Homo sapiens: one gene and its partners. The protein of the gene in region 4 interacts with the protein of the main gene of each other region in a biochemical or structural test. Each region holds a gene or a part of one and is shown on either strand. Other genes may lie near its edges.

What was found.
Region 1: the proteins of RET (region 4) and FRS2 form a complex in vitro, tested with the Homo sapiens proteins (one study listed by BioGRID).
Region 2: the proteins of RET (region 4) and PTPRF form a complex in vitro, tested with the Homo sapiens proteins (one study listed by BioGRID).
Region 3: the proteins of RET (region 4) and DOK5 form a complex in vitro, tested with the Homo sapiens proteins (one study listed by BioGRID).

The regions. Positions count from the first base shown.
Region 1 is NC_000012.12:69,571,128-69,578,827, reverse strand, and holds part of FRS2 (fibroblast growth factor receptor substrate 2), read right to left. Parts: intron 7,553-7,700; coding exon 7,394-7,552; intron 6,711-7,393; coding exon 6,547-6,710; intron 4,824-6,546; coding exon 3,873-4,823; 3' UTR 1-3,872. UniProt on the Homo sapiens protein: Adapter protein that links activated FGR and NGF receptors to downstream signaling pathways.
Region 2 is NC_000001.11:43,596,489-43,604,188, forward strand, and holds part of PTPRF (receptor-type tyrosine-protein phosphatase F isoform 1 precursor), read left to right. Parts: intron 1-1,259; coding exon 1,260-1,565; intron 1,566-2,231; coding exon 2,232-2,425; intron 2,426-5,582; coding exon 5,583-5,609; intron 5,610-6,927; coding exon 6,928-7,045; intron 7,046-7,122; coding exon 7,123-7,700. UniProt on the Homo sapiens protein: Possible cell adhesion receptor. It possesses an intrinsic protein tyrosine phosphatase activity (PTPase) and dephosphorylates EPHA2 regulating its activity.
Region 3 is NC_000020.11:54,478,073-54,485,772, reverse strand, and holds part of DOK5 (docking protein 5), read right to left. Parts: intron 1-7,700.
Region 4 is NC_000010.11:43,100,490-43,108,189, reverse strand, and holds part of RET (proto-oncogene tyrosine-protein kinase receptor Ret isoform a precursor), read right to left. Parts: coding exon 7,468-7,700; intron 5,849-7,467; coding exon 5,561-5,848; intron 3,426-5,560; exon of another isoform or gene 3,239-3,425; coding exon 2,997-3,238; intron 1,815-2,996; coding exon 1,619-1,814; intron 1-1,618. UniProt on the Homo sapiens protein: Receptor tyrosine-protein kinase involved in numerous cellular mechanisms including cell proliferation, neuronal navigation, cell migration, and cell differentiation in response to glia cell line-derived growth family factors (GDNF, NRTN, ARTN, PSPN and GDF15).

The DNA of each region.
Region 1 (7,700 bases), on a different chromosome or scaffold from region 4:
TTATAAAAGAAAAAATTAAAAATCTAATAAGCTACCTTTATACAAAGTTGCTATATTTATGCCTTTACGTAGGAAAAAAACATTTATAATGCAAATTAGGACATACAATAGTCTTACAATATTATACAATGTAATGAAAATAAAACATAACACAAAGTTTGTCCTTTATAAAATGTATATTTTGCATTACTAATGCAAATGTGGCACACTGGTGACTACTGTACTACTTATACCAGTCTGTTTCCATGCTATAACTGTCCAATTGCCATAGAACTGCAATTATAATGATGCTACAAAAGAACTGTGTTATACCAAAAATGAGGAAGTAGGGATGGGGAACAGGGATGTAAAGAACAGGAAAGATAGATAGGGTGCTGGTTTGGGCAGAGTATACTGTGGTACGTCATAAAATATGTTAATTTTTCAAGCCAAAAACATTTTCTTTACATTCTGTAATTTCGTACCAATGCCTTTATTCAAATTTGGCAAACATCAAGGAAAAGGTAATTAGTACCATATACCTCACACATCAGAAATATGAATGAGATGCCAATACATCAGTTACTTGTGAATGATGTCTCTGATGGTATGTCTATTTCAAGAATATATGTATTTATACACACACACTACACATTGCACAAAACATTTGGGCATTATAGGTTAGGAATAGCACGGGGGAATTGGGAAGTACTTTTTCATCTGTTAAAACCTTTACCTTGAGGCAAAAATATGGCGGCACATTGTTGGGAAATTATGAAAACATAAGGCCCCTGTCCCATTTTTAATAGAACATTATTGAGGTACATTTTTATATGCTGTGCCACAGTTTTGGGGAGGGGGAGGAGATAAACACTAGCTTGACTTGTTCTATTTATAACATTGAACGCTGGAGAGGGTCAACATTAGTATCTATAAAAACAAAGATTGCTTGGCAAATTTTCCTAAGTCCCAGATATGATGTATTCTGGATATACTGAGAAGTGAAAAGCTTTTTGCTGAATCTTAAAGAGTAAAGTGCATATCTCATCACTCCACAGCAGCAGTAAATAAAAGGAAATATTTGCCAGTCTTCCTGGAGGGAGGGAAGGCACCATATTTTCATTTTTAGAAGAAGATGAAACTGGGAAATAAAACACACTAAGAAAAAACACAAGTAATACCAATATCAGTTTCCAACCCTAGCATGGGATAGATGCTGTTATGATTTGTATGGATAAAACAGTATTCTATTTGGAGGGAAAACATTAACAATGATTATATTTCCAAAACCAAAAAGAAGGATCACATGGTCTACCAACAGAATTATCTAAAATTAGATCTGCCTCAGAAAATCTGAGATATATGGCCACAATTATATGCTAATAAAATATCAATATTTCATTCTAAAATGCACCTAGTAATAGGTACATCCTTCGAGGACACAGCTTAATGCCCATTACTAAACTACTGCAAAGGACAAGTAGTATTCTAAATTACCTTTTATTAAATAGGAACACAAGTGATTTCTAGAAAATATCTAGAAATTAACACCAGTTGTATATATTTTCCTAATACTCTTATAGTACCTAAAATCAAATTCTTAGCAGACAAATTGGTCCCATTTTCCTTTTTAAAGCACATAGTATTTAAAGCATAAACTGTAATGATTATATTGGAGTTATCTAAAAAAAATAAAAACTAATTAGAATCCGGGGGAAACAATGAAAAGGATGACGGAAAGAAAGAATAAAGTACCCAACCTCCAAAATGAATAAATAGATCAGCCCTTGCATTTGGAGATTAATGTTCTGCCTTGACTGGCTGTTTCAGAAAAAAATGTGCAATGGTTCCATCATAATTCTTATTCCACATTACAAAAACTATTACATAAATTTGGCACAATTAGCAATTTACTCAGAAGAAAGGATAAGTGGAACAATATATTAAAAATGGAACCTGCATCATGGAAACTGCACACCTATACCACTGCTCTCTTTTAAGAGAACAGTGAGCACTTTAATAAGCACCAAGTTCACAGGGGAACAAAAGGGAGAAAAGAAAATTCTGCTATGCACATAGAATGATAAAATACACTGATATTGATTTATAGTAAAGACACTAAAAATGGCACTAAAACGATAAAGACACCTTTAATAATTTATTTTCTTTATAATGATCCCACTCTATTGTTCTCCTAATCCATCATTGTCCTATGATTCGGTTACTGAATAGGTTGGATGCCAATATGACTAAAACTTTTTCATGCTAAATTAACCTTAGTTATATCTGGTAGATCCAGATCATAATCTCAAACTTCCTCATATTTAGAGAAAATAGTAAAATATTTTGCAAGGTTACCTAACCTTTTCCACTCTACCTTCTCTCGTATTCTCTAGTGTTTAGGAAATTGGAACATCTTTGATTTTCCAAGAGTTTGACATATGGAGACTCTTCAGTTTATATAAACTTTAATTCATTTTAAATCCTAAATTATGATACAATCTCACTGCTACAAGACTTCCACTGTACCTGCTATGCTGGCAACAATATTAATATTTCATGGAAATCGAAGGATAATCAAAGATCCAGCTACAAGTAAAAGGACAGCAGAGCTGAGGAACACTAGAGTGGGCAGAGTACAACTGCAGCGTGTAGCTGGGGGAATTACTGCTAAAGTGCTGGGGAAGAGTGCCCACAGAGACAACACGGTACACCTTGAGGGAACTTTGCATGTTAAAAGTAGCTTCCTTTTTTTCTCAGTTTGCTAAAGAGATCACCTATGGACACAAGCAAATTTAGAATTGGAGAATGTTTTTATCAACTTGAAAAGTAAACAGCTTATAAATAAATACTGGACAAGGGCAACCCTGTTACAGACTAACAGTAAGTTCCAAATGAACCTTCAAAACCATAATTTGACAAAAATGCAAACTAAACAACAATGAACACATAATCCAATTTCAAAACTATATACAAACTCAAACATTTTAAATTGAAAAGGACATAAGGCAACAAAATAAGACATCCCAAACACCAAAGAAAAAAACTGAAGATAAATGGAAACCTAATGGCACAAATGCCTCCAGAAAACAATGTGTTGTCAACAATCTATAGGAGAAAAACTTTCAGGAGATTGTGGTTCAGATTTTCAAATGTTTTTGGGTAAAGTGACCTGAGACTGATTCTTGAGCCTATTATAATTTTAAGATATCTGGACATGCCCTTCAAATGACATCATGAGATGAGTAAATAGAAAATCTTGTCTCCTTCCTGCCTTTCAGTGCACCAACAGCAAAGCACACTCATGGACACAGGCCGCTTTCTAGTAACACTGAAGGCAAAGGAGCTGACTGGTGTAAGAGGAGGTGCGGTACTTCTGTTTCCTTTACATATGTTTTGGCTCAAGTCAAAAAGCCATTAATTAATGAAATAAAGGATTCCTCATGTTACATGCTGGAGGCCACATACTGTGAACACTGAATCTACGAGCATTACTTTCAAAGCCTATAGTTACCTGTTAGCAATGTACATTGTCAAGAGGCTTTATAAAAAGTTTTAAAAGCCAACCATGACTTAGACATGAAAGGTATGCGTTAAGTCCAGAATATTGATAAAAATCAACCAGCATGTCATTTACTTCAACTCTCATTTTAAATAGGCACTGTGAAAACGGGAATGCTGCTGTACAACGAGTAGTATATAATGAAATTAGTGTTCTTTAAGGAGTACCTGCTCTACATTAATTCCCTTTAGTTAAAGATGCACATGAAATATTCAGAAAAAAATTTTATCAGTCTATAAAAGGAGTTAGTGTTTAGAAATGAAAATGAAGCACTTGCATCTTCATTTTTAAAAACTTCACAAAGGTGCAAACAACACAATGCTTTCCAGGCTCACATGGGCAGATCAGTACTATTGTGTCTAGTTTTCCTAGATGTACCATCATCTCGTGGCAGTGCTTTCTGCAAATTTGACATAGCAGCAGTTCTCTCGATGTCTATCACGGCATACAGCTCTGTGCGCCTGGTAGGGGTTTGTGGAAGGGGAGTTGTAGGCGTTTTTGGAGTCTGAGGGTTGTCAGAGTCACTGCCACCTTCCAAGTCAACCTGTATGTAATTAAGCTGCCTGTGTTCTAAACTTGGGCGTCTGATATCAAAGTTAAAGACTGTTGGTGTACAGTCCCGACGCCTTGAATATTCTATTTTGTGAGCACTTGCTGGCACTGTTACATTCTCTGTATTTACATAGTTATGCATTGGATCTAGATTATTATGGTAGCCATTTAGAGATGGGGTCTTTGGTCCTAAATTGTCATCTTCATCCCTACTTAGCTTGCGGGCTTCCCAAACAGGAGGCAAAGATGGTAGATTTTCATAGTTTAATAATGCAGTTCTTCTCTGAGCTGAGTTGTTGATATTCTGGGTATCTGAGGTACTGGTGGATGTCAGACGACCTCTCCTGACCCCTGAGGCACTAGGGATAGATAGCCCATTTATATTTTCATACACCAGTTTGTTAACAGAGGGTGCATCTCTTCGTTCATCACTGTCATAGCCAGTGTCCCATTCTGTGTTATTTGCTCCACTTCCACTAACTTGATCTCTTCCAAGTTGCTCCAGTTTCTCTTTTTCCATTAACTGCTTTTGAACAGGGGTTGGCCCTAAAACAAATTTGACTCCTTCAGGTTCAAGAAGAATCTGAGGATCCCTGTCCTCAATACTACTTGGTTCTTCTTTTGGTGTGCTGCTTTCAGCGTTAGAAACCCTCGCCTCCAATGGAACATGCACACTTGTGCGGTTTTTCCGCTCTTCTTGCACACCTGTAGTGTTGACATAGGTATGTACCTAAAACAAAACAGAAAGTGAATTAGTTAACTTACTTAAAAAAACAAAACTGAAAAAAAGCCTGACCACATCAGTTAATTTTATTGACAACAGTTAACTGTATTAACTTTCTCTCCAAATGTACTCTTACTTCAAAACTTTTGCACCTGTTTTTTTATTAATAAAAAGGTGGAAAGAGAAGGAGAAATGTAGAAATGTCTTCCTAATTTGATAAAAGAATAACGACTTCAAAATAACACGCAGGCTGGGCGCAGTGGCCCATGCCTGTAATCCCAGCACTCTGGGACACTGAAGCGGGTGGATCACTTGAGGGTAGGAGTTCGAGACCATCCTGGCCAACATGGTGAAACCCCGTCCCTACTAAAAATACAAAAATTAGCTGGGCATGGTGGTGAGCGCCTGTAATCCTAGCTACTCTGGAGGCTGAGGCACATGAATCATTTGAACCCGGGAGGCAGAGGTTGCAGTGAGCCGAGATTACACCATTACATTATCAGCCTGGGCAACAGAGTGAGGCTCCATCTCAAAAAATAAAATAAAATAACATGCAACATTATATTTGATTGTTAAACATGATAAATATTATGTAAAAAATAAAAATCAGGAACAAAATAGGGATTATCATTTTGCTGCTGTTTTAGAGGTTCTCAAAGCATTAAAACATGATCCAGAAATAAATAACGACTTTGAAAAGAGATAAGTTTATCCTTATTTACTGATGATCTGAATGTATAAGAAGATTAACTCCACTAGATTTAATAAGAGTTCTGTAAAATGCATATATATAAAATAAATGCCACCAAGTAAGAAATTATCACTATTTAGAAAAGCTTAATAGTATTTTGGGGAGATAATATAAAAATATTTACAAGGGTCGGGCACAGTGGCTCACGCCTGTAATCCCAACACTTTGGGAGGCCGGGGCAGGCAGATCACTTGAGGTCAGGAGTTCAAAACCAGCCTGGCCAACATGGTGAAACCCGGTCTCTACTAAAAATATGAAACAATTAGCTGGATGTGGTGGCCTGCGCCTGTAATCCCAGCTACCTGGGAGGCTGAGGCAGGAGAGCTGCTTGAACCCGGGAGGTGGAGGTTGCAGTGAGCTGAGATCATGCCACTGCACTCCAGCCTGGGCGACAGACCAAGACTCATGTAATTACAGTAAATAATATAACAACTCATTATGTAAAGAACACAAAGAAACTGATTTTAAAAACACTAAAAACTTTTTAATGTGACATATGGTTTACAAAACATAAGTATAACTAATTAATACAGAGGTTCCAACCAGATACTTCATTCCACACATGAAAACTAGCATACTCGGGAACACTAAATAACTCCATAACATTAACAGCAAAATCTACCTTCCTACTCGTAGTTCACTGACTATAATGGCTAAAATATGAAAAGCAGCATAAACTCTTAATCCATTGGACATTCTTATAATGGGAACTGACCATTAGTTATGCCTTTCTTAATCTATAGATGTACCTCTTCTGTGAACCCACAAGCTACTGTAATGGTAAGTTCCCCTGAATACCCGCATATATTTGAGCATAAACCAGCAAATATATGCTATCTCCTCTGATTGTTCACTACAAAAGTAATTTACAAACAGATAAAGTTAAACTTCAAGCTGAATAAAATCTTCCAGTATTAGCACAGTGATACCCTAACTCTGAACAATCATTATTGCTGTTACACAGTAGCACATGCTTACTTGTTCCTCAGCCACAAGCAAAGGATGTGTAGATTCTTCCCCTACTGAAGGCAGGCGAGCACTTCCCACAGAAGGATGTCTGCTTGACGGATGGGATGAAGCATCTCCAAATGAGGGATATCGGGGATATCCATTAGGTAAGTTCTGAGCAGCAAATCCTGGAGCTGAGTTTTTGTTTATTGGTTTAAGGAAAAGGGGGGCGGGGCAGAGAGAATAAAAATGAGTAAGAATCGAATCTGTACTGAGGATTATAGGAGGTCTTTCTGCCAAGACAGCAGAAATCAGAGCACAAATAGTATTACCCCCAACTCCATATTTTACCTAATATGAAATACTGAATGTTTTCATTTTTTAAATATTTGAAGTACTTAGAACTACGGCTGTGTTTTTTTGTTCTGTTTTGTTTTGTTTTGTTTTTGAGACGGAGTCTTGCTATGTCGCCCAGGCTGGAATGCAGTGGCATGATCTCAGTTCACTGCAAGCTCCACCTCCCGGGTTCATGCTATTCTCCTGCCTCAGCCTCCCGAGTAGCTGGGATTACAGGTGCCCACCACCACGCCCGGCTAATTTTTTTGTATTTTTTTAGTAGAGATGGAGGTTCACAGTGTTAGCCAAGATGGTCTCGATCTCCTGACCTAGTGATCTGCCCGCCTCAGCCTCCCAAAGTGCTGGGATTACAGGCGTGAGCCACTGCGCCCGGCCTACAGCTGTTTTTAAAAACTGACAACCATTATACTTCTGTTATCCAGTGGTGATTTCTAGTGTGTTATTGATTAAATACCCACAATCTATAGCTTACAACTAAACGTCTGTTATTCAAAATGTGAAAGGGAAAAGGGGTACTTACTTGTAGGTGTTCGAGGTGTTCTAGGGACTTCCAATTCTGTCTGATGATTATTTCTTTCTACAACTGGCTCTTCCACCACATTTATACTATTATTTTGCATAATCTCTTGCAACATGTTAAATAATTCTTCTGCACGGGCACACTTAAAGGCAAAGATTCCTACAAATATAAACCAAAAGGGAAAAATAGTTAACATACCTTTAAAAAAAACTATAGGAACACTTGACAAACAGCAGAATTGTAAAGTAAGCATTCTACGCACCGAGTCAGAAATCCCTTTTAAATAAATATCTGATAAATTAATGAT
Region 2 (7,700 bases), on a different chromosome or scaffold from region 4:
ACAAGGAGACACGTGTCTGCCTCCTAATTCCCAAAGAAGCTGTTGAGTGAGGGCACCTCTGTTGGTGGGTACTTTTTCTCCACGCCAGGGGCTGTTGGCCTTCATGTTCGGCCTCCTGTTGGTGATTACCTGTGGCACTGGCAAAGAGACTGTTTCCAGGCAGGCACAGGTGAAGGCTGCCTTATGCCAAAAGGGCCACTGGGGCCACTCTTCCTCGGAAGAGCAGAACCGTGGGCACAGCAGATGTGAAGCAGTTCTCCATATGTGGCTGTGTGTGCGGGTGGCAGTGGGATGGCCACGTGCTTGTGTGTATGTGATATCGTGTATGTTTTGTGTGAGACAGCATATGTGTGGGAGAGACCTCGTGTGAGAGATGCTGTGTCAGAACTCTAAGACATTGTGTGTGAGAGTGTGTGTCAGATGCCATGTGTGAGACACCAAGACACGGGTATGTGATACTCTGTGTATATGTGAGTCTGTGTGAGAGACACTGATACTCCAAGACATTGTGTGTGTGTGACACTGTGAGACACCAAGACAGTATATGTGCGAGACAGCCTATGTATGTGACAGTGTGTGTGTGAGACACCATGAGAGACTGTGTATTTACTGTGAGAGACTGTGTGAGAGACACGTGTGAGACACTGTGTATATGACACTATGTATACGTGAGACTGTGAGACACTATGTGTATGTGACACTGTATATGTGTGAGACCGTATGAGACAGTGTATATGACACTGTATATGTGTGAGACTGTGTGTGTGAAACACTATATGACACTGTATATGTGTGACACTGTATATGACACTATATGTGGAGACTATGTGTGAGACACTATGTATATGTGACACTATGTATGTGTGTGACACTGTGAGAGACACTGTGAGACACCAAGACAGTATATGTATGAGACACCCTGTGTGTGTGACACAGCGTGTGACTGTGTGAGACGTGTGTGAGGCACTGAGACTGACACTGTGTGTGAGGCTGTGTGAGAGTCAGTGTGTGTGATAACTGTGTGTGTATCACCGTGTGTGTGTGTGAGAGAGGGAAGGAGAGAGAGGGAGGCAGGTCAGAGGGAGTCAGGTGTCCTTGGCGAGAGTGGCAGCAGCCTGCCTGGAGGGACCCTGGGATGGCCATTTCAGCACCTAAGGGGTAGCCTGCCCGGGTGAGTCTCCAGTCCACTGTGACTCAGTCATTGTGCCTGTGATCCCCACCCTCCATCTGCTTGCTTCCCCCCCATTTGTCTTCCCCAGCCCCCTCCGCCCCTCCCCAGAAGGTGATGTGTGTGAGCATGGGCTCCACCACGGTCCGGGTAAGTTGGGTCCCGCCGCCTGCCGACAGCCGCAACGGCGTTATCACCCAGTACTCCGTGGCCTACGAGGCGGTGGACGGCGAGGACCGCGGGCGGCATGTGGTGGATGGCATCAGCCGTGAGCACTCCAGCTGGGACCTGGTGGGCCTGGAGAAGTGGACGGAGTACCGGGTGTGGGTGCGGGCACACACAGACGTGGGCCCCGGCCCCGAGAGCAGCCCGGTGCTGGTGCGCACCGATGAGGACGGTAGGCAGTGCCACCGGGGCGGGAGGGGAGGCGTTCTGCCTCAGACACCACCCACCAAGCTCCCCAGGGCCTTCCTTTCCTGAACACAGGCCCAGGTCAACTCATCTTTCTGGTTCAGGTGTAATGGCCTAAAGTGGGGGGATGTCACTTACGGGATAACTGAGGCCCAAATCCCAGCCTTTGGGGCTGTCTCCAAAGCAGCTGAAACCTTCACAGGCTAAGATGGGAGAAGCAGCCCTGTCTAAGATTTGAAAGGTCAAGATTGGGCAGATTGGTGTAAAAGATACTCAAAGTAGAATCAGCAAGACTCCACGTTGGCTGGACATTGGCATGATTGGGGCCTAGGAGGAGTCAGGACAGGTTGTGCTGACTAGGGGTGGTCAAAGACCTGGTGCCCCACCTCCACCTGTTCCCCCATGTCGACCCTCCCCACCAAGTGAGAGGCCTGGGCCAGAGGGGTGGGCAGGGCCAGTCCTGGGCTCTTACCCGTGGCGGGCAGAGGGAGCCTTCCGTGTGCCTCACCAGGGACAGATGATCTAAGGAAACTGTATCAGGGCCTTTCCTGGGGGAGTGGGGTGCTGAGGCAGGACCCTCAAGTTTGCTGTGCCCACCTGAGCTAGGGTTGATACCTCCAGGCCTGACTTCCTTCTCTACCTGACCCCCCAGTGCCCAGCGGGCCTCCGCGGAAGGTGGAGGTGGAGCCACTGAACTCCACTGCTGTGCATGTCTACTGGAAGCTGCCTGTCCCCAGCAAGCAGCATGGCCAGATCCGCGGCTACCAGGTCACCTACGTGCGGCTGGAGAATGGCGAGCCCCGTGGACTCCCCATCATCCAAGACGTCATGCTAGCCGAGGCCCAGGTGCAGCATTGGGTGGTGGTGGGGTGGCAGGGTGAGCACAGACCAGCATGCACAAGCTCCCTTTTGGGGCCCAGATATGTCCCTCTTCCCCTGCCTGCCCTCAGCAGTGCTGTGACTGCCTTTCCTTGGTTGTGAGACCCGAGATGCTTTGCAGCATCAGGGGTTAGGCTGGGGTTTTTTGGGTGTGGGTTTTTTGTTTGTTTGTTTGTTTTGAGATAGAGCTTCACTCTTGTCGCCTAGGCTGGAGTGCCTCCTGGGTTCAAGCAATTCTCCTTCCTCAGCCTCCCGAGTAGCTGGGATTACAGGCGTCTGCCACTGCGCCTAGCCAATTTTCGTATTTTTAGTAGAGACAGGGTTTCACCATATTGGCCAGGCTGGTCTCGAACTCCTGACCTCAGGTGATCCGCCTGCCTCAGTCTCCCAGAGTGCTGAGAATACAGGTGTTAGCCACTGTGCCCCACCAGGTCGGGGTTTTGAGATGTGCCTTTCCCCTAGACAGTGCTGGGCTGGCATCCACTCTTCCCACAGAAAGGGTAGAGAGAGTGCTCCAGGGCTGTCTTACCCCACTGGCGGCCATGGGTCCGTGGTTGCTGCAAAGCTCTGTGAGTAGCCAAGTAGAGTGTTGCCCTGCTCCTGGCCCTGCAGGGAACGATTCAGCCCCTGATGTTCACCCTCAAGAGCTAGGCCTGCTGGCCAGCCTCACACCTCCCTCTGTGCACATCTGTCTTCCTGGGAGGATGGTCCTGCCCTTGAGCTTGGGGTGAGGTCCCTGGGGTATTCTGAACACTGGTTGCTATTCAGATGAAGAACTTGGAATGCTGGGGGGTTATGAGAGTGGTATGGAATTATTCAGCAAGTAGGTGGCTGCTGCGCTTGGATGAGAAGCCATGTCTGTGGACCCCTAGGAAAGGGCCACAGTTGCTGTCATGAGCCCCCTCCCAAAAGACCCTGCTGGAGAGTCACAACACCTGGTGTGGTGCTCTCAAGGTCTCCCTATCCAGGAGCAGGGCCTCCCCATTGAGCCTCTCACCTCTGCCTGGGTGGAGAGCAGGGGTGCGTGTACCACTCAATGCTGTACACACTGTGCAGAGGGGTGGGGTCACCCACACAGACAGGAGCCTTATTCCTCCAGCTGGGCTCAGCCATCTGAAGCAAAATTCTTTCTGCCCAGAGGGTGCTCTCTTCCCCCTCTCAGCCTGCCCAGTGCTAAGGCATCCGGGGTGGAGGAGGCAGGCATGTGCACCCACCTGCATTCCTGGGGCAGGTTGAGGGCTCCTTGTGGAGCCTCAGTGAACACACCTACCCAGAAACATCCCAGGAATGGGTTCCCCTAGCCCCTCCTCTCTGAGGGGGCCAGTGGCCACAGCTGTGGCCAGTGGGGTTCCAGAGAAGCCACTTCAAGTGCCCCCTTCTGGTCCCAAGAGGTTCGGAAGGGAGCTGGGCCAGAGGCTCAGGGACGCTGCCCATTTAGTCTCAGACATCCCATCATGGGGGCGGTAACTCGAGTCTGGGCTCCCGGAGGACACTGAAGATGGAGGCCTGCTCCGTAGCCCTCTCAGGACTGGGTCATTCTGTTCCTCGCCAGTGGGAGAGCAGTGGGGCCTGGTCCCGAGCGTGGCCACAGGGCCCAGCTGTCCCTGTGCTTCTGTCAAGGGCGGCACATTCTGTCCTTCACGCAACAGCACCATCCCCTCAGCTCATCCCCCATCATGCCTGAAGGAACTATGTGGTGCAGGTTCCCACCCCCAGCCTGGAAGTGTGGAGCCAGACCTGTCTCCTTTTACGTCAGATTCCATCTCCCTGCCTCCCTTTTTCCCCTCTCGTGGCCTGCATTTCTCTCTCCTTCTTGGAGTCTCTGTTTTTGTCTTGCTCTTTCTCTTCTCTCTCCTCCTTCCTTCCCTCCTCCCCCTGCCATTCCTCTGACCCCTTTCCTTCATCTCCATTTGGTTTCATCCTCCGTCCTTCCCTTCTTTCTTGCTCTGCCTCTAGCGCAGGACAGGGTCCATGTGATGTGAGAACCTCCACGCCAAGGCTTGGTTGGGACAGCCCAGGTCTCCCCGCAGGCAAGGAGACTGGAAGGGACGTGGGCCCAGCCACACCCTATAAAGTGGCCATGCACTAAGGACCTGTCCAGAGTCTCCTCTCATATTCTGTTCCATGCTTCTTGCAAGGACTTTCCAACAGAGTGTCCCAGGACAGGAGGAACTTAGGCCACCCAGCATGGAGGCCAGTGGACAGAGGCCAGACCGGCACTGTGGGGGTGCTTGGGCTGGAGGACCCCAGGTACTTCCGGCTTGGAGACATCCTGGACCATCTCCCTGTGATGTTTCATGGGGCCTCAGAATGGAGACCTCACAGTCCCTCCACCTGTCCATCTAGAATATCTACATGCACCAAAGGCCCGCAACACTGCCAGCCCCGAAACATTCCTTCCTACCTTAATCCTCAGACACCCCGAGGAAGGAACGGGTATAGGTGATTTCCCGTGCCTGTGGGCTACAGCCCAGGCTCTGAGCTTGGCACTCACAGCCTTCATAGTCTTGCTGACTGGCTTGCCCTTGGGCCCACCCTGGCCATGTGCCCTGTTCACCCCCAACTCTTACTGTTGTGGGACACTTCTCATGCCTGGGGTGATTGTGTAATGTATGATCACATCTGGGATGCTTTGGCGGGTGGAAGGAGACACTGAATAGTCAATTCCATGGCAACAAGCACAGGCCAGGACTGTCCGAGGCAAACCAGGGCATATGGGCACCCCATTCACCCCTCAGTGTCTTCCTTTCCCTTGGCCTGAGCTGTTGAACCCACCCTTCTTGTCTGGCAGCCTCTCCCTCCCAGCAAGCCCAAAATTGTCAGAGCATCTGTAGCTGCTTTGTGTTCTTAGGGCCTTCTGTCAGCGGGTCCTCTCCCTGCAGGCTGCCTGCCCTCCCTGTCTCCCTACCCTCCTCAGCCCTGGCACACCCAGTTGGTGCTCAGTGAGGCAGGGATTCAAATCTTTGAACCGGGAGTTGTTCTGGGGTGCTACCCCCATGGGTACTTTGAGGCCCAAAAGCCCTCCCTCTGTCCTCCCTGGGCAAGGTCCCTTCCAGGCCAGGCCCTCTCCAGGTCAGAGTCCTTCACCATCCTGTCTCCCTTTCTCTCCCTCTCCCGCGGTCAGTGGCGGCCAGAGGAGTCCGAGGACTATGTAAGTAACAGGTGTGCGAACGCGGACAAGACATGGGTCAAGCTGGGCTCGTGGGACGCTCCTCCTCTCCCTCCTTTCCTGCTAGCCTGCACTGCCAAGATCCACAGGGCTCTAGCCACATCAGGAGAAAATTGGCGTTTAGACACAAGCACTGAGCTGAGCAGCGATTGGCATTTCCTCTAATCCTTACTTCTTGCCTGTCGAGCAGCAATTTGAGGCCAGTGTTCATGATCGACCAGGGCCTGGCCCCTGCCCCGGCCAGACAGGGATGGAGTTAAATCCAATCCTGATCGTTAGGCCTTATTGATCCCTGGAGTGAAAAATCACCTGCTTTAGGGCCCAGGCTGGGAGGGCTGTCTGGAGAGTCGGATTCTGGCATTGGTGCATTCTGGAGCCCCAGCCCTGGGAGACCCTCCAGCTGTGGCAGGAGGGGTCCATGAGGGGGTGGTGGCAGCTGCAGGGGCCCCACTCAAGGCCAGAGCTGGAGGGATACCAGGGTTGATGACGGCTCTGTTCCCACTGCACGGTGGTCCCTGCCCTGCTTCCCACTCTTCTCTCTGTGTGGTGTGGCTTGACCTCCCATGGTGTTTCTCCGCATGTCCAGAGATGATGCCTTTGCTGCAGATGGGTATATGGGCAGGGTCTGCCAAGCGGGGAGGACATTGCCCTGGCTGCTGTCTCAGGCATCACTGAGAACAGATGTGGAAGCCAGTTCCCCAGGTGTGGAGGTTTTCTTATTCTCCTAGCCCCTCCCCTGCCTTTCTCAAGAGGTATTGCAGGGTATAGACATTCACAGAGTTAGTGGCCTATATGGGGGCAGCGGAGTCCTGACTGGGTCCTATAGGATGGCACCTTAGCCCATCCTGCCACCTTGCTCTGTCTGTGCATGCATGCACTGGTGTCCACAGGCAGCCTTACGCCTGCTTATGCAGGAGCTGTAGGCTGTGTGCGTGTGGCTGCCAAGAGCCACGCAAGGTGCTGGGTGCGTGCGAGGCTGTGCCCTGTTGATATCCTCAGTCTCCGTTCACAGCACAGTGGAGTGAGGGAAACAGTCTGGCCCTTTGTTCTTGTCTGAAAAGAATAATGAGCTGTCTGCCCCAGGCGTGCGGCTCCTGGGATGGGCGGGGTCCTCCCAGGCCTGCATCCTACCTGCCTGCTTCCTCTCCAGCAGAGGCCACCATTGTATAGCCCCACCTTCCACAACCCCTGGCCTTGTGTGCCCCGGGGCTCCCCTCAGGCTAGGGTCCTGAGGTCCCTGACAAGGTCTGGCCTCTCCCTGCATTCTTGTGATGGGAACGAACCCCTCCTCCTCCCTCAGGAAACCACTATCAGCGGCCTGACCCCGGAGACCACCTACTCCGTTACTGTTGCTGCCTATACCACCAAGGGGGATGGTGCCCGCAGCAAGCCCAAAATTGTCACTACAACAGGTGCAGGTGAGTGAGGGGTCAGGACGGACCTGAGGGTGGGGCAGCAGGAGGGCAGCGCCAGAGCCCAGCCCGTGGTCCTTCAGTCCCAGGCCGGCCCACCATGATGATCAGCACCACGGCCATGAACACTGCGCTGCTCCAGTGGCACCCACCCAAGGAACTGCCTGGCGAGCTGCTGGGCTACCGGCTGCAGTACTGCCGGGCCGACGAGGCGCGGCCCAACACCATAGATTTCGGCAAGGATGACCAGCACTTCACAGTCACCGGCCTGCACAAGGGGACCACCTACATCTTCCGGCTTGCTGCCAAGAACCGGGCTGGCTTGGGTGAGGAGTTCGAGAAGGAGATCAGGACCCCCGAGGACCTGCCCAGCGGCTTCCCCCAAAACCTGCATGTGACAGGACTGACCACGTCTACCACAGAACTGGCCTGGGACCCGCCAGTGCTGGCGGAGAGGAACGGGCGCATCATCAGCTACACCGTGGTGTTCCGAGACATCAACAGCCAACAGGAGCTGCAGAACATCACGACAGACACCCGCTTTACCCTTACTGGCCTCAAGCCAGACACCACTTACGACATCAAGGTCCGCGCATGGACCAGCAAAGGCTCTGGCCCACTCAGCCCCAGCATCCAGTCCCGGACCATGCCGGTGGAGCAA
Region 3 (7,700 bases), on a different chromosome or scaffold from region 4:
TAATGTGAATGTAAAATGGTACAACTGTGAGAAAACGGTTCAGCAGTTTCTTTAAAAACTAGACACAACTACTCTACAACCCAGCAATTGCACTCCTGGACATTTGCCTAGAGGCACGAAAACGTATGTTCACGTGAAAACCTCTACACAAATGCTTATATGAGTATATCAGCTTCATTCATGATAGCCAAAAACCAGAAACAACCCATGTCCTTCGACAGGTGAGTGTCTAAACAAACTACGGTACCTATTGTACATACACACCATGGTACACTACTCAGCAAGAAAAAAGAACAAACTTATACACACAACAACCTGAACGAATCTCAGGGGATTATATTGAGTTTTAAAAAAGCCAATCCCCAAACATTACATACTGTATGGTTCTTTTACATTACATTCTTTTTTTTTTTTTTTTTGAGACGGAGTCTTACTCTTGTCACCCAGGCTGGAGTGCAATGGCACGATCTCAGCTCACTGCAACCTCCGCCGCTCACTGCAACCTCCGCCGCTCACTGCAACCTCCGCCATCCGGGTTCAAGTGATTCTCCTGCCTCAGCCTCCTGAGTAGCTCTCCACCATGCCCGACTAATTTTTGTATTTTTAGTAGAGACAGTGTTTCACCATGTTGATCAGGCTGGTCACCAACTCCCGACCTTGTGATCTGCCCGCCTCGGCCTCCCAAAGTGCTGGGATTACAGGCGTGAGCCATCATGCCCAGCCTACATAATATTCTTTTTAAAAAATTCTGAGACAGAGTCTCATCTTGCTCTGTCGTTCAGGCTGAAGTATAGTAGTATGATCAGAGTTCACTGCAGCCTCAACCTCCCAGGGTCAAGTGATCATCCCACTTCAACCTCTCAAATAACCAGCACTACAGGCGTGTACCACCACACCTGGCTAATTTTCTATTTTTATTTTTTGTAGAGACAGTCTCACTATGTTGCCTGAGACTAGTCTCAAACTTCTGGGCTCAAGTGGCCCTTCTGCCTTGGCCTCCCAAAGTCCTGGGATGACAGGAACAAGCCACCAAGCCTGGACTCCATTTACATAATATTCTTGAAATGACAAAATGACAAAAGGAAAACAGATTAGTGGTTGTCAGGGGATTAGGGATATGGAGGACAGGGGCAGGAGGGGCAGCTATATAAGAAGACTGTGAAGGATCCTCCAGGGGATGAAATGTTCTATATCTTAATTGTATCATTGTCAATATATTGGTTGTTATATTGTCCTACAAATTTGAAAGATGTTACCATTGGGGGGAAAGTGGTTAAAGGGCATGGAATATCTCTCCATATTATTTCTTACAACTACATATGAACATAACAATTATCTAAAAATAAAACTTCAATTAAAATAATGAAATATTGATCTTAACTTTTTTTTTTTTGAGATGAAGTCTTGCTCTTTTTCCCCAGGCTGGAGTGCAGTGGCGCAATCTCGGCTCAATGCAACCTCCACCTCCTGGGTTCAAGGGATTCTCCTGCCTCGGCCCCCTGAGTAGCTGGGATTACAGGCACCTGCCACCATGCCCAGCTAATTTTTGTATTTTTAGTAGAGACAGGGTTTCACCATGTTGGCCAGGCTGGTCTAGAACTCCTGACCTCGGGTGATCCACCCGCCTCGGCCTCCCAAAGTGCTGGGATTACAGACGTGAGCCACCACACCCAACCTGATCTTAATCTTTAAGAAGGCATAGCAGGTGGAAAGTGGGAGAGGCTGGGGCAGGGAGGACCAGACTTCTCTAAGAATCTCATACAAGCTGCAAAGCATTGTCTCAGAAAAGTCACCTGCATCCTCTCACTGGAGCCTAGTTAACAACTCGGCTTAAGAACACAAGACAACCAGTTAACAATTTTGTTCTCTGGGATCCAGGGCATAAACAGAGGGTGAGAACACTAGTGAAATAAAGGCAGCCCCCACAACTGCTCTGCAAAAATCAGCTTCCAAATACTTATCCAAAATGTAGCCATCTGCATTCTAGAAAGAAGCTATTTTAATTTAAACATTCACATATATCATGTGGCATTTCTAAACTCACAATTTTATTTTGAATTTCACAGGAACGGGGGGGTCGCACCATAATCTCTTCAAGGCTTAGAATCTCCAAAGGTTTAATTTCCACCCTACTAGGATCAAATTCCTAGAGTAAGAGAAAAATCAAATTTGCCCTTCCTCATTTCACAAAAATAGAATAGAAAAATATCCTCAGGCATCTTTTCACTTCAATATTTGACCTGTTACTCAGATTAATTCCTCTTTAACTATAGTGAATACATTAATCTCTTGTTAATAATACAAATCAAAAATTAAATTGTCAACTCCTTGAGGATGGTGATTGTATCTGCCTTATTTAAGGTGGTTAACACTAATAGGTACTCAAGAAATATTTGAGGAATGATAAAACAAATGGAAGAAAATATATTCCAATGAAAACTAAGTTCTTAAAATACCAAACGATTCCCCACAAAAATTACAAAGCTGCTTTAAAAATAAATATTTCTAGTCTTCTAATAAATATGATTTCAAAAATACATTGGCAGATGTGGGGACAATCATATCACTAATTTGGTTTATGTCTATATACAAAGTCACTAAATTGGCCACTCTGCTTAAATCAGTTTTGGGGATGATGATGTAAAGGCTGACTTTATGCACAATTAATCGTCTCATCCACATGGACAATCAGATGAAGACGACTGAAATACCAGCTGGAAAGCCCTTCTGACATGGAAACCATGTCAATGAAGCTGATTCAAATGAAGCCAAAATAACTGAGTCGTCCCAGCTGATGCATGTATATATATGCAGTCTATCTGGCCATAAATTTCCCTACTGGTAAAGTTATCCCAAAGCCTCTTGTTCTTAAAGAGTAACTAAACTTCACATATCTTACTGAATAGTTGCATGAGTTCATATGTGCATATATGTGCATGTGCATACATATACTTAAATAACAATAGCATATGATGAGGCCGGGCACGGTGGCTCACGCCTGTAATCCCAGCACTTTGGGAGGCTGAAACGGGTGGATCACCAGAAGTCAGGCATACAAGGCCAGCCTGGCCAACATGGTGAAACCCTGTCTCTACTAAAAATACCAAAATTAGCCAACTGTGGTGACATGTGCCTGTAGTCCCAGCTACTCAAGAGGCTGAGGCAGGAGAATTGATTGAACCCAGGAGATGGAGGCTGCAAGTGAGCCGAGATCACACCAGGACACTCCAGCCTAGGCAGCAGAGCGAGACTCCATCTCAAAAGGAAAAAAAAGGAGTATATGAGTTTATTCTATCTGTATAATTTTCATACTACGATTATGACTTTGTCATGGTACCATAAAAAATGCATGGATTCCTGAACATCTAAATCTAAAATCCTCAAATGAAACATGAAAGCGTTTGTGGCATACCAGGTCAGGTGAAACTATAAAATGAAAGAATTAGAAAATGTTTATTTTTAAAACCTGGCCGTGAGCTGACCAATTTTTAAAATTTCTTCTCTACCACAAAAGAAAACAGTCCCCAAGTTAACAAAAATACCTCCTAGTCCAGTGAATTCACTCGAATTGGAGTTACATGAAGAGGCATTTCTCCTTATTTTATATCTCTACCATTTGTGTAGAATCATAAAAAATCTTATAAAGGCGAAATCTTATAAATTCCTTCTGTATCAACCATCAATGCCAAGCAACATTTGGTACTTGTACTAAGTTTGTTTTCCTAACTAAAAAACAAGTTCTTTGAGGATATGAACAATTGCAGTAGAAACAGTGAAATAATAACCAGTTAAGTGTCATTGTCTCTAACCACACTGGAAGTAGGAGTGAGAGCCCTAATAAACATTAATTGGGTTTTTACTGTGTCAAGCACTGTGTTAAGCTCTTTATGATCATCATCTATTAGGTGAGTAGTAAGAGTCTCCATATTTTTACAGAAGATGGAGGCTTATAAATATTAAATAACTCACCAGAAGTCACATAACCAGCCAGTGAGTTGGGATTTTAACGCAGTCACATGTCAGAGCCTATGCTCTTAAGCCACAACACAGTGATGGGGTCATTAATTTATTCCACAAATCTTCATCAAATGCCCACTCTGTGCTGGGCCCTGCACTAGGCACTGGGGGACAGCTATGATTAAAGAAGAGAGAAACAAGTCCCAGCCCTCATGTAGCTTCACATGTCCTTGGCAGTACATAGGCAATACAAAGATAAATGAAGGAGAGGGTAATAAGTCTAGGGAGAAAAAGGGGCAGGGAAAGAAGGAAAGGAGAGGGAGAAGAAATAAAATAGAGTGGTCTGAGGCCGGGCACGGTGGCTCACGCCTGTAATCCCAGCACTTTTAGGAGGCCGAGGCTTGTGGATCTCAAGGTCAGGAGTTCGACACCAGCCTGGCCAACATGGTGAAACCCTGTCTCTATTAAAAATATAAAAATTAGCTGGGTATGGTGGTGCATGCCTGTAATCCCAGCTACTTAGGAGGCTGAGACAGGAGAATTGCTTGAACCCAGGAGGCAGAGGCTGCAGTGAGCTGAGATCACGCCACTACACTCCAGCCTGGAAAAAAGAGCAAGACTCCGCCAAAAAAATATAGATAGATAGATAGATAGATAGATAGATAGATAGATAGATAGATAGATGATAGATACATGATAGATAGATAGATGATAGATAGATAGATGGTAGATGATAGATAGATAGATGATAGATAGATGATAGACAGATGATAGATAGATGATAGATAGATGATAGATAGATAGATGATAGATGATAGATAGATGATAGATGATAGATAGATAGATGATAGATGATAGATAGATGATAGATAGATAGATGATAGATGATTGATAGATAGATAGATAGATAGATGGAGGCCTTAAAGGCCTCATTGAGAGGGTAGGAGCTGAGAAAAGGCTGAAGGAGGTGAGAGAGCAAGCCAGGAGGAGGTAACTGGGGAAACAGCATATTCCAAGCAGAGAAAACAGTGAACGAGAGGGTTCTGGGGCAGCATAGGGCCTCATGGCCCATTGTAAGACTTCTCTGCAGTATATGGAAAGTCACCAATGGTTTTGTTACCAGACAGGGGTTCTCATCCAGACCCCAAGAGAGGGTTCTTGGATCTCTCACAGCAAAGAATTCAGGGCAAGTCTGTAAAGTGAAAGCAAGTTTATTAGGAAAGTAAAGGCATAAAGAATGGCTACTCCATAGACGGAGCAGCCCCGAGGGCTGCTGGTTGCCCATTTTTATGGTTATTTCTTGATGATATGCTAAACAAGGGATGGATTATTCATGCCTCCCCTTTTCAGACCAAGGGTAACTTCCTGACGTTGCCATGGCATCTGTAAACTGTCATAGCACTGGTGGGGGTAGCGCCACGTAGCAGTGAGGAAAACCAGAGGTCACTCTCATGGCCATCTTGGTTTTGGTGGGTTTTGGCTGGCTTCTTTACTGTAAACTGTTTTATCAGCAAGGTCTTTATGACCTGTATCTTGTGCCGACCTCCTATCTCATCCTGTGACTTAGAATGCCTTAACTGTCTGGGAATGTAGCCCAGTAGGTTTCAGTCTTGTTTTACCCAGCTCCTATTCAAGATGGAGTTGCTCTGGTTCACACGCCTCTGACAGCTTCAGCAGCCAGGTGACATGACCTTTCTTACATTTCCAAAGGAACACTTTACTGTATTGAGAAGGCACTAGCGGGAGCAAGAGTGTAGGCAGGAAGTCAAATGAGAAGACTGTTGCAATGTTACAGGGAGGAGATGAGGAGGGTTCGGACCAGGGTCGTAGCAGTGGATAGCGTGAGGTGACAGCCGGATTCTAGATATATTTCAAAGATACAGCCCACAAGATCTCCTGATGGATTGCCTGTAGGGGTGGGAGATGAGGGGAGAAGAGTGAAATGACACCAAGGTTCGCTTGTGATTTTTACCTTCGCAACCAAAATGCTGGGACCTCTAGTGGCTAAGATGGAGAGGACTCTAGGAGCAGCAGGTCTGTGAGTCATCCAAGTGGAGATGTGGGATAGACAGGAGAATTTACATGAGTGGAGGTCAGAAAAGAGGTCCAAGCTGCTAAGTCCTTGGTAGACAAGAGCACAGAAATGTCACTTAAAGGCAAGTAACTGAGGGATTGTGCGTAGATAAATAAACCCGAGTTTCCGTTCTGAAACTTGCACTGTGGGCAAGCCATGACAATGATTGATTGGAAAATCATCTCCATTGCAAGGAAAGAAACGAAGTGAGAATTGTTATATGATGCTATCTAAGTCACACATTCAGCAGGTTAATGTTGTACAAATTGCCTGATTTGCCTCTCCCCTAAAAAGAAATTTTTAGTGCATTTAATCGATTACTCAAATAATTATGGACAGCTGCTCCCCTCCTTCCCCCAGCCCCTCAAATAGTAACGTCGACATTCCTGAACAAATTCAGTACCCAGGGCACAGCTGGAGACCTCCAGGAAACAATGGGGATTAAGCTGGGGAATACAGATGTGAAGATACTGAAACTTTTGAGTTAAATGAATTATATTTCATTAAGCTTTTTGATGTCTAAAGAAGAGAATAAATCTATACATATTTGATTGCTTAATCATTTAAACTCTTTAGGATTTCAAATGAAGGTGACCACTTATCTGTGACCCATTTGAATGGGAATGTTTTTAGAATGTTTCCTGTCCTGTTAAAAAATCACATATATAAATATACGTATATTATATATTATACAATATGTACATAGGTTGTATGTATATATTTATTCCTATGTATAAAAATACACACACATACACATATATGTATATAATTTGTAAAAGTTTCATCCATTGAAAAAATCTGGAGCTGCATAAACATTTATGCCTTTGTACACTTCTACATAGAAAGAGAAGGAAATAGATAATTCCTATATCCGTCTACCAATCCTAACTCATCTTTGATTAAAGAAAATGATACAAGCAGAATCAATGTTCTAGACTTTCATTGCATTTTCACAAATATCTTCTTTAATGCTCCCAAGAACATTAAATAGTGTTCATTGTACAGACTAGGAAACTGAGGCCAAGAAAGGTCAAAGGTCAACAAGCAATAGAAGCAGAATGCGTTCCCTTCTCCTCTTTCTCCAAATCTGAAGAAGCATTTATTCCTTGGCACCAGGAACAGCTGCTTACCATGAAATGTTTTTGTATTTAATTATAAACCGTCCCAAACATGGTCTGGATTCCATTAATAAATGCTGTTGTATTAGTTCCTAAAGGTTATAAATGGCAAGACCATCCATGCACTATATAGTTCAGCACATATTTCAACATGAACTTACCAAGTGTCTACTCTGTGCTAGACAAAATAAATGCCCTACCTCTCTTTGAGACTGGCACATATTCCTAGAAGATACATGTCGCATGCTGTTCTAGACTATATGTAGCCTAGATTAATACCGCTAACATTCCTTACTGTGGACATAGGGTCCCCATGCCAATTCCGTACAGCATCCTTCACCAATATTTGCAGCCTCCATTAAAACTTTGGTTTGCACTGTGTTCTGGCAACTATGTAATCAGCCTCTTTTGTAAATCATACCATAAGAATATTTTAAAAATTAACTGGTGAGAAAACCAATGCTAACAAATAAGACCAGATTTACTTGATCATATTTTTGACCTTTTCTCTCCATGAGCAATAACCATAATTCAATAGATATTCTGAAGTC
Region 4 (7,700 bases):
TTTTTTTGTAGAGACAGGGTTTCACCATGTTGCCTAGGCTGGTCTCGAACTCCTGGACTCAAACAATCCACCCGCCTCGGTCTCCCTAAAGTGCTGGGATTACAGGCGTGAGCCACTATGCCTGGTCCATAAAATCTTGTTAAAAACCTTTTTTTTTTAAGTTACCCAGGTATAACGTGGTTTACTTTCCCTCCTGACCCTGTATAGCATCAGGCGACACATAGCAGGCCTCCTTAACATTCCTTTGTACTGACCTGAAGTCTTTAGGCAAAGCTTAACTCTTTCAACCAACTGTAAATTAAAGAATCTCTGCATCTACCTCTAACCTGTAAGCCCCTGTTTTAAGATACCCTGCATTTTGGGGCCAAACCAATGTATACCTTCTGTGTGTTGATTTATGTCCTTGCTTGTAACTCCTGTCTCCCTAAAATGTATAAAAGCAAACTGTAACTCCACCACCTTGGACCTGGGGACCACTTACTCAAGGCTTCTTGGGTTTGTGTTTTCTCCAGGCTGTGGTCACTCATCCTGGCTCAGAATAAACCTCTTTAAAATGTTTTACAGAGTTTCGTTTTTTGGGTAACAGGGTGTGTGTGTGTGTGTGTGTGTGTGTGTGTGTGTGTGTGTGTGAGGCATGGGGGGTTAAAGGTCTACATTACCAAGGCCCTGGGAAGGACACACTAGAGCCCTCCAGACAGCTCCCCCAGAGCATGGCAGAACTACCCTCCACTGCAGGAACCTCCAGCAGACCCAATGACCCCGCAGGCCAAGCCCTGGAAGTCATGCCATCGGTGTACCTGCCGCGTGCTGCCACTGTGGATCTCATGTGGTGGAAACAATGATGGGAGGGGCACTCTGGCACACAGGGTGTTCAGTGCCAGGGCAAGGAGGCTGTCTCCCCTCTGACAAGTGGGGCCTCCATAGGCTTGGTGAGGTGGGGAGGACTGAGGAATGAACAGGACCAGGCCAGGCAGAAAGGGGTGAAGGACTCATGGCCTGGGGTTCCACCAGACACAGACCCCAAATGCAGGTGGTTTATTTGGAAGGCGATCCCAGGAGAAATCTGCAGGAGGTGGCGGAGGGAGGCAGGAAGCAAGGCCGCTGCTGAAAGGTGCCCTGCAAGCAGGTGAGCATGGTGGCATGTCAGCAGTCAGGCAGGATAATGGGCTCAGAAGCCCTGACCTGGCTCGGGGCTGCTTCTGTACACCAGCCTGTTTAGCAGAGAGCTGCTGAGGCTGGAGCAATAATCCGTAAGCACTTGGGACGCCTTAGGGGCAACGATGGAGTGCCAGGGGCTGGAGGAAAGCCTCAGGTGACATGTGTGTTTGCAGTCGGTGGTGAGCCCTGGTGAGGTCAGCAGGGGGGTGTGGTGGGGCCCTGCCAGGGTCGGCCATGGATCAGCTCAGGGAGAGAGGTCCCATGGTGAAAGCCCTGCTGGTGGCTGGAGGGCAGGCCTGGCAGAGACACAGGAAGTGCTGGGCAGAGGGTGGAGGGGAAGTGGCTTGGGCCACAGAGGGCCATGCCAGGTGTGCATGTGTGTAGGGTGCTGCTTGCCCATGAAGAGCGAGCACCTCATTTCCTGGGGGCCTAGCCAGGCCGTGCCACCAGCCCCTCTTACTATAGTCATGTACGGTCGCCCGCACGAAGCTGCCGTTGGCCTGGACCGAGGTCTCGTTGGGCCAGTGTTCCACCCGGAAGGTCTGCTGGGCCCAGGTGTCCCCGGGGAGCAGCGTGCTTGTGTACCGCCTCACCAGCTCCCCTGATGCAGGTACCACGTCTGCATCGAAGACACGCAGCGTGGCCACCACGGTGTCCTGCAGGATGCAGAGGGCGTTGGTCAGTGCAGGCGAGATGGGCCCCTCAGACCCCCCAAAACCAGAGACCTTAGAATGCTGCACGTCCCACACAGCCCATAGGTGGACCAGATGTGTGTTGTCAGAGCCAGGTCTGGGGACAGTCTGACCTGGGTTCAAGTTCCCACGGGGTCACTGGCCAGCCTGGCCGTCACCTTCCCTGAGCCACTGAGCCTCGCCTGTGTAACAGGTACAATGCAGACCTCTTATAAGGAGAATTACAGCCGATGCCCAGGCACCCTGCTGGCAGGTCCCATCCAGGTCCCCAGAGAGCAGGATGAGCACCTCCACTCTCCCCTGAGGAAGCTGGGCCCCACAGGGTGAAGGTCAGGTCAAGGTCACACAGGAACAGCCGGCAGAGCCGAGCTCCGAGGCCAGGTGTACATCAGAGCGCTCTGTTCCAAGCATCCTCCTACCCCAGGCTGGAGGGGGTTGTGAGGAAAGCCGCTGGGCACCTGGATGGCTCTGCCCACCAGGCCTCTGCTGTCACCCCAGGGAGGCCCACATAGCCTTTACTCACAAATTGTGCTTTCGACCAGACCCCCTTTCCCTGCCAAACCTGCACGTGGTGTGCCCAGAGAAGCGGAACAAGGCAACGTACTACCTACCTCAGTCCCCACGCCCACTCTCCCACGGCCCCTGCTGGGTGGGCCGGCTGCAGGAAGGCCGAGGCCCAGCAGGTGGCGGTCGCGCTCCACCAGCGCGAGCCGGAGAAGGGCGGGGCGGGCGGCGCCGGAGGTGATCCGCCTTCCCGTCCTTCTCCAATCCCCGGCTCTGCTCGTGGTCACTCAAGGGCCCTCCCGTTGGGGGCTAACTGCTGGTGGGAGGGAGTGCCCTCCCGGCAGATGCTCCCCGCCCGGGCAGCGCGCCGCGCCCGCCTGCAGCGGCACAAGTATGCCCCAGACGCGAGCCCTCGGGCCTCGTCCTGGTCCTTGCCTCCCGAGGCAAGGCCCAGCTGGGTGCTGGCAGGACTCCCCCTTCCCCTCCCCCTAGGACAGACGGCGCAGACGGAGGCGAAGGACAAATGAAAGCGCGAATGGTCGGCCACACGGTTGGGTGGCTACACGGACACTAAACCGACCGAGAAACGAACTGTGGCCGGAGACAGACACTGGGTAGACCACAGCACGCGCGGACAAGCACCTCCTTCCGCTTGAACTCCACCACGGCGCTGGCGGTGTCGACGCCCGCGGGGAAGGTGGGCGCCGAGTCGTCCTCGTCGTACACGGTCACCGGGAAGGGCACCATCACCACCTCCTCGCGCGCGCCGGCGTGCACGGTGCACACGGCCACCAGCTCGTACTTCTCCCGCTGCTCGCGGTCCAGGGCCCAGCGCGTGCTCACCTCCAGGCTGTCCGGGGCGCAGCGGAAGGGCAGACCCTCACCTGCGCACCAAGCAGACAGGGGCCCCGCGTGATCACCAGCCGGGACCGGGCCAGCCGCTTTCCTCGGGAAGGGGGCTCTGCGGTCAGAGCGGGGCGCACACCGCCGCGGCCCCAGGCCTCCCCTCCTCCGCTCCACAGGGGAGGGCAGCGCTCGGAGCACGAGTTTGCAGTTTGCAGCGATGACTGTGCTTACGAGTTTGCAGTTTGCAGCGATGACTGTGCTTACGTCCTGCTGCAGCTGCGTCCTCACTCGTGCTGGTTGGGAAGAGCCAGGACCAGGCACCCTGATCAACCAGTAGGGACTGGGACACCCCTCCGCCCACCTGGCCTTGATCAGGAGTGGCCTTGTGTGGGGAAGGGTGGCTTTGCCTCAGCCCAAGCTGCACTGCAGCCCTAGAGAGCCAGCTACTGGCCTTGGCTGCTTTTTTTTTGTTTTTGATGGAGTCTCGCTGTGTTGCCCAGGCTGGAGTGCAGTGGCGCGATCTTGGCTCACTGCAACCTCCAACTCCCGGGTTCAGGCGATTCTCCTGCCTCAGCCTCCCGAGTAGCTGGGACTACAGGCGCCCGCCACCATGCCCGGCTAATTTTTGTATTTTTAGTAGGGACGGCCTTTCACCATATTGGTGACCTTGGCTGCTTTTTAAAAACTGTTAGGTTTTTTTTTTTTTCAATTATGGAAGCAATATGTGTTCATTTTAGAGAACGTGAGAAAGCCACGATTCTACCACTTGAAAACAAACACAGTGGACATCTGGGGTATGATGTGACATTAACGCATAATGATTTCCGACCGCCTAGTGTGCATCCCCACTCTACACCTCCTTGTCCAGTGCGTCGCCAGGCTGGTCATCCTCTGAAGGCCGGATGTCGAGACAAAAGCGAATGCTCCGTGCCCTGCATGGCAGCTCGCGCTAGACTACATCGCCCCTGAAGCAGGGCCAGGAACCACAACACAGTCTTCAACGAGCCTGACCTCGGATTTGTCCTCCAGAAATAATCCAGAAAAGGGGGCATGCTGAAGGCGGAAGGTCACCGCTGAAGACCCCACAACCCACCCCAAGGAGGCGGGGGCAACTCCACAAGCCTCCCAGGCAGAACCATGCCTTGCGCATGAATTACGTATGTGGGAAATGCTTATCATATAATGCTTTCCTCTGTTGAGTGTGATTACAAAAAACCCCCCACTAAACTAAATTTAATCACATAATTTTTAGTGAAAAAGGGCAGCATGCAAAAAACCAAGTGCTCCATCAACCCTGCCCCAGAGAATGAAAGGAATCTGGGGAAGCATAAGTGATGGCTTGTCTTCCTTTACTGAGATTTTAATATTCTTGCCATGTTTGTGTGATAAAGTTAGTGTGAATTTAGGACACACTTGCCAGCGGTGCAGCCTCTGTGACCTGGTTGAGCCCCACTTCCTGACTTTCTGATGGTCAAATGGGGCCTCCCTGCACCTAGTCAGCTGCCTTCTCCCCTCTCCACTGGGATCCAGCTCATCCCACCCTCTGACTGGCTGCAGCTGCCTGCTTCTCGCCATGCCTCGGCTTCCACCCGTATCCCGGCATCACACCCCACATCCTCCTGTTCAGAGGTTTCTCCTGTAGCCTTCTGATTGTCTCCCAGCTTCGCCCCTGAACCTTCCCACCCCAAACCATTCCTAACACAGTAGTCTGACTAATCCTTTTAAAACTAAGTCAGGTCCTGCCAGCACTCCCTCCCTCCAAAGTCTTCCATAGCTCCCCATGTTCCTCCGGAGAAAGCCCTGCAAGCCACTCCCAGACCTGCCCCCTGCCCCAGGAACTATTCTGCCCCATCAGCCTCAGCTCTTCCCTGTCGCTCAGTGCACTCCAGGCACACGAGGGTCACACTGTGGTGCCCTCCAAGGGGCTAGGCCTGCCTACCCGGCACCCTCCCACCTTTGCTCTGCTAGCCCCCACCCTGACCACCCAATTTACGATAGAGGAATGGAGGTCTCCTCGTCTGTTCCCCTCCTCTTCAGCGTTTCCCTCTTCCCAGTTTCCTCCCCAGCTAGCTCCTTCCAGAAGCCACCTGATTTCCTTGGCATGCTCAGACGCTCTGTCTGCCCCACAAGAATGAAAGCTGCAGGCAGGCAAGATTCCAACCCGTTGTGTTCATTGTTATATCCTTAGCTCCTAGAACAGTACCTGGCCCCTGGCAGGCATGCAAGAGGTACTTCTGGAATATTGAATGAACTGATGGCATGAAGGTGAAGAATAAACCAGATGGCTTGTGTCAAGGGCTCGCAGAGCAAGACCAGCAGTAGCAGGCACTGTGGGGCGGCCCCACAAGGTCGGCACTCACCCTCCAGGAGCCTGTAGGCCACGCTGATGTTGGGGCACAAGAACTGCACAGGCAGCAGGCGGAACTGGTGGAAGGTGCCTGGGGGTCGGTTCTCCCGAATGCGGAAGGAGGGCCTTGTCTCTGGGAAGCAGAGCTCCCGGGGCTTGAGGGAGCTGCAGGCTGGAAAGGAGGTGTTGAAGAAGGAGAAGTATACGCGGGCACAGCCTGGCCACTGGCACTCGCCCTCACGAAGGGATGTGGGTGACAGGAAGACCTTGAGGTAGACGGTGAGCAGGGGAAAGCCGCGGTCTGCAGAGAGAAGTCAGGTCTGTGGGGGCATCGGCCACATCTGCCAGGCAGTCGGGAATGGGGAGGAGGCAGGAGCTCCAGGGCTGGTGTAAACCCTGGTCCCCACCAAGGTCCACAAGGCTCAGACTGGTGTTCCAGCTCTGCCTGCCACCTCCTTACCTCTGCTGCACAGCCCTGCTGCCCAGCACCAATGCCCCACAGGCCTAGCTCTCATCATTCAGTTCTTGGCTTAGAGGCCCCTTCCTCAGGGAGGTGTGTTGAGCACTGGGTCTAAGGCTCCCCAACTCTGATGGTGGCAACTTCTCCAGTAAGGGGTGACCAGCACCCCCCCTGCCACACCCTCCTCAGGAGGTTTGGAGTGGCCGCAGACATACTTCCCCAATGCCTAGAGGGGGCATTTCCGGCAAGTTCCATCACCGAAGCGCCATAGCCATTTCAGCTGGGCTGCGAGGGCTTTCCCAGCCTCCATCTCAGCCCTAGGTGGGCGGCTGCTCCTCAGAGCTGCTCTTCCCATATTCTCTGGCATTCTCTTTGCTTTTTGCTAGCCTGTCCCTCATTGCTCCAATCCCCTGTTGTAATTAATTCTTTACACAAACTCTCCCTGTTAAATTACCCTGTGGTTTCTTCCTCCACAGGAACTGGCTGTGCATGAAGCCTCTCCCCACCTTGGAGGGCTTAGGCCTCCTACGAAATGCAGGCCCAGGGCAAATTCCACACTGGCCCCCACCCAGGGACTCCCATTCCTCAAGCTCCACCCTGGAGGCTCAGGATGAAGAGGGCAGCAACTAAGTGCGTAGAACCACGACCAACCTCAGATGCTGCCTCCTCCAGGAACTGCCTGGGCTGCGCCGGAGGGAGTTGCCCACCCAAGTCTCCTCCCTCCCCTGCACCCTGGCTGTCCCTGGCAGATAGGCCTGGGTAGGGCAGGGATGCCTGCTCTGCATTCATAGCCTGAGGCTTGCCTCTCACCAGCAGACAGGGCTCAGGGTGGTTGTGAGGGCTGTGCAAGCTGTGGCCCTGGAGGGGTGCTAGGGATGGGAGCTACCAGGTGCAGCATCACCGTTTCCTGTCACAGGGGCTCTGCTTCCCCCCCACCCCTCCCATTACCAATGTCACATGTGGCCGTGACTCTGGCTCTGACTGCTCCTCTTTCCTCCCTGGACACCTGGGACAGGCCCAAGTCCCTGCCAGGTACAAGGGCAGCCAGCTGCTGATAAGAAGTCAGGCTTTCCTTGGGAACTGCCGCTTCTCCAGAGAGTTGCAGGTCATTTGCTAAATCAAAACCTTGGGATTTTTCCAGCCCCACTTACTCCCTCTCTCGAAACCTCCTAATCCTTTTTAGCCCCACTGGAAGAGGGATTCGGGTCTGGCAGAAGAGTGTACCCGGATGATTCCCGTGTGTCTCCAAACTCCTACAGCCTCACGCAGCCCTGAAGCTTGTCCTGGCTTCTCTCCAGGCTGGACACAGAGGCAGGCCAGCCTCACTTAACCCCTGACGCCTTCCACACCAGCGGTGGGGGGGAAGCCATGCCAAGCTTCAGTGTCAGCGGCTGTGATAAGGGCGGCTTGAGGAAGGGGTGGGGTGGGGCACGGGGTGGGTGTTGGGGCGGCTCCCTTACTGCGGACACTGAGCTTCTCCCAGGAGCTATGGTCCAGGCTCCGGTTAAGGTAGAGGAGGCCGGTGTCCTCCTGGATGCAGATCCAGTTGTTCTCATGCAGCCGTGTGCGGTACGTGCCGTAGAGATGCTGGCCCAGGCGGAAGCTGGGCACCTCCTCAGGGGCGTCCCGCAGGGCATGGACGTACAGCAAGGGCGTGCCGGCTGCCTGGTCCACATACAGCTTCTCCCAGTAA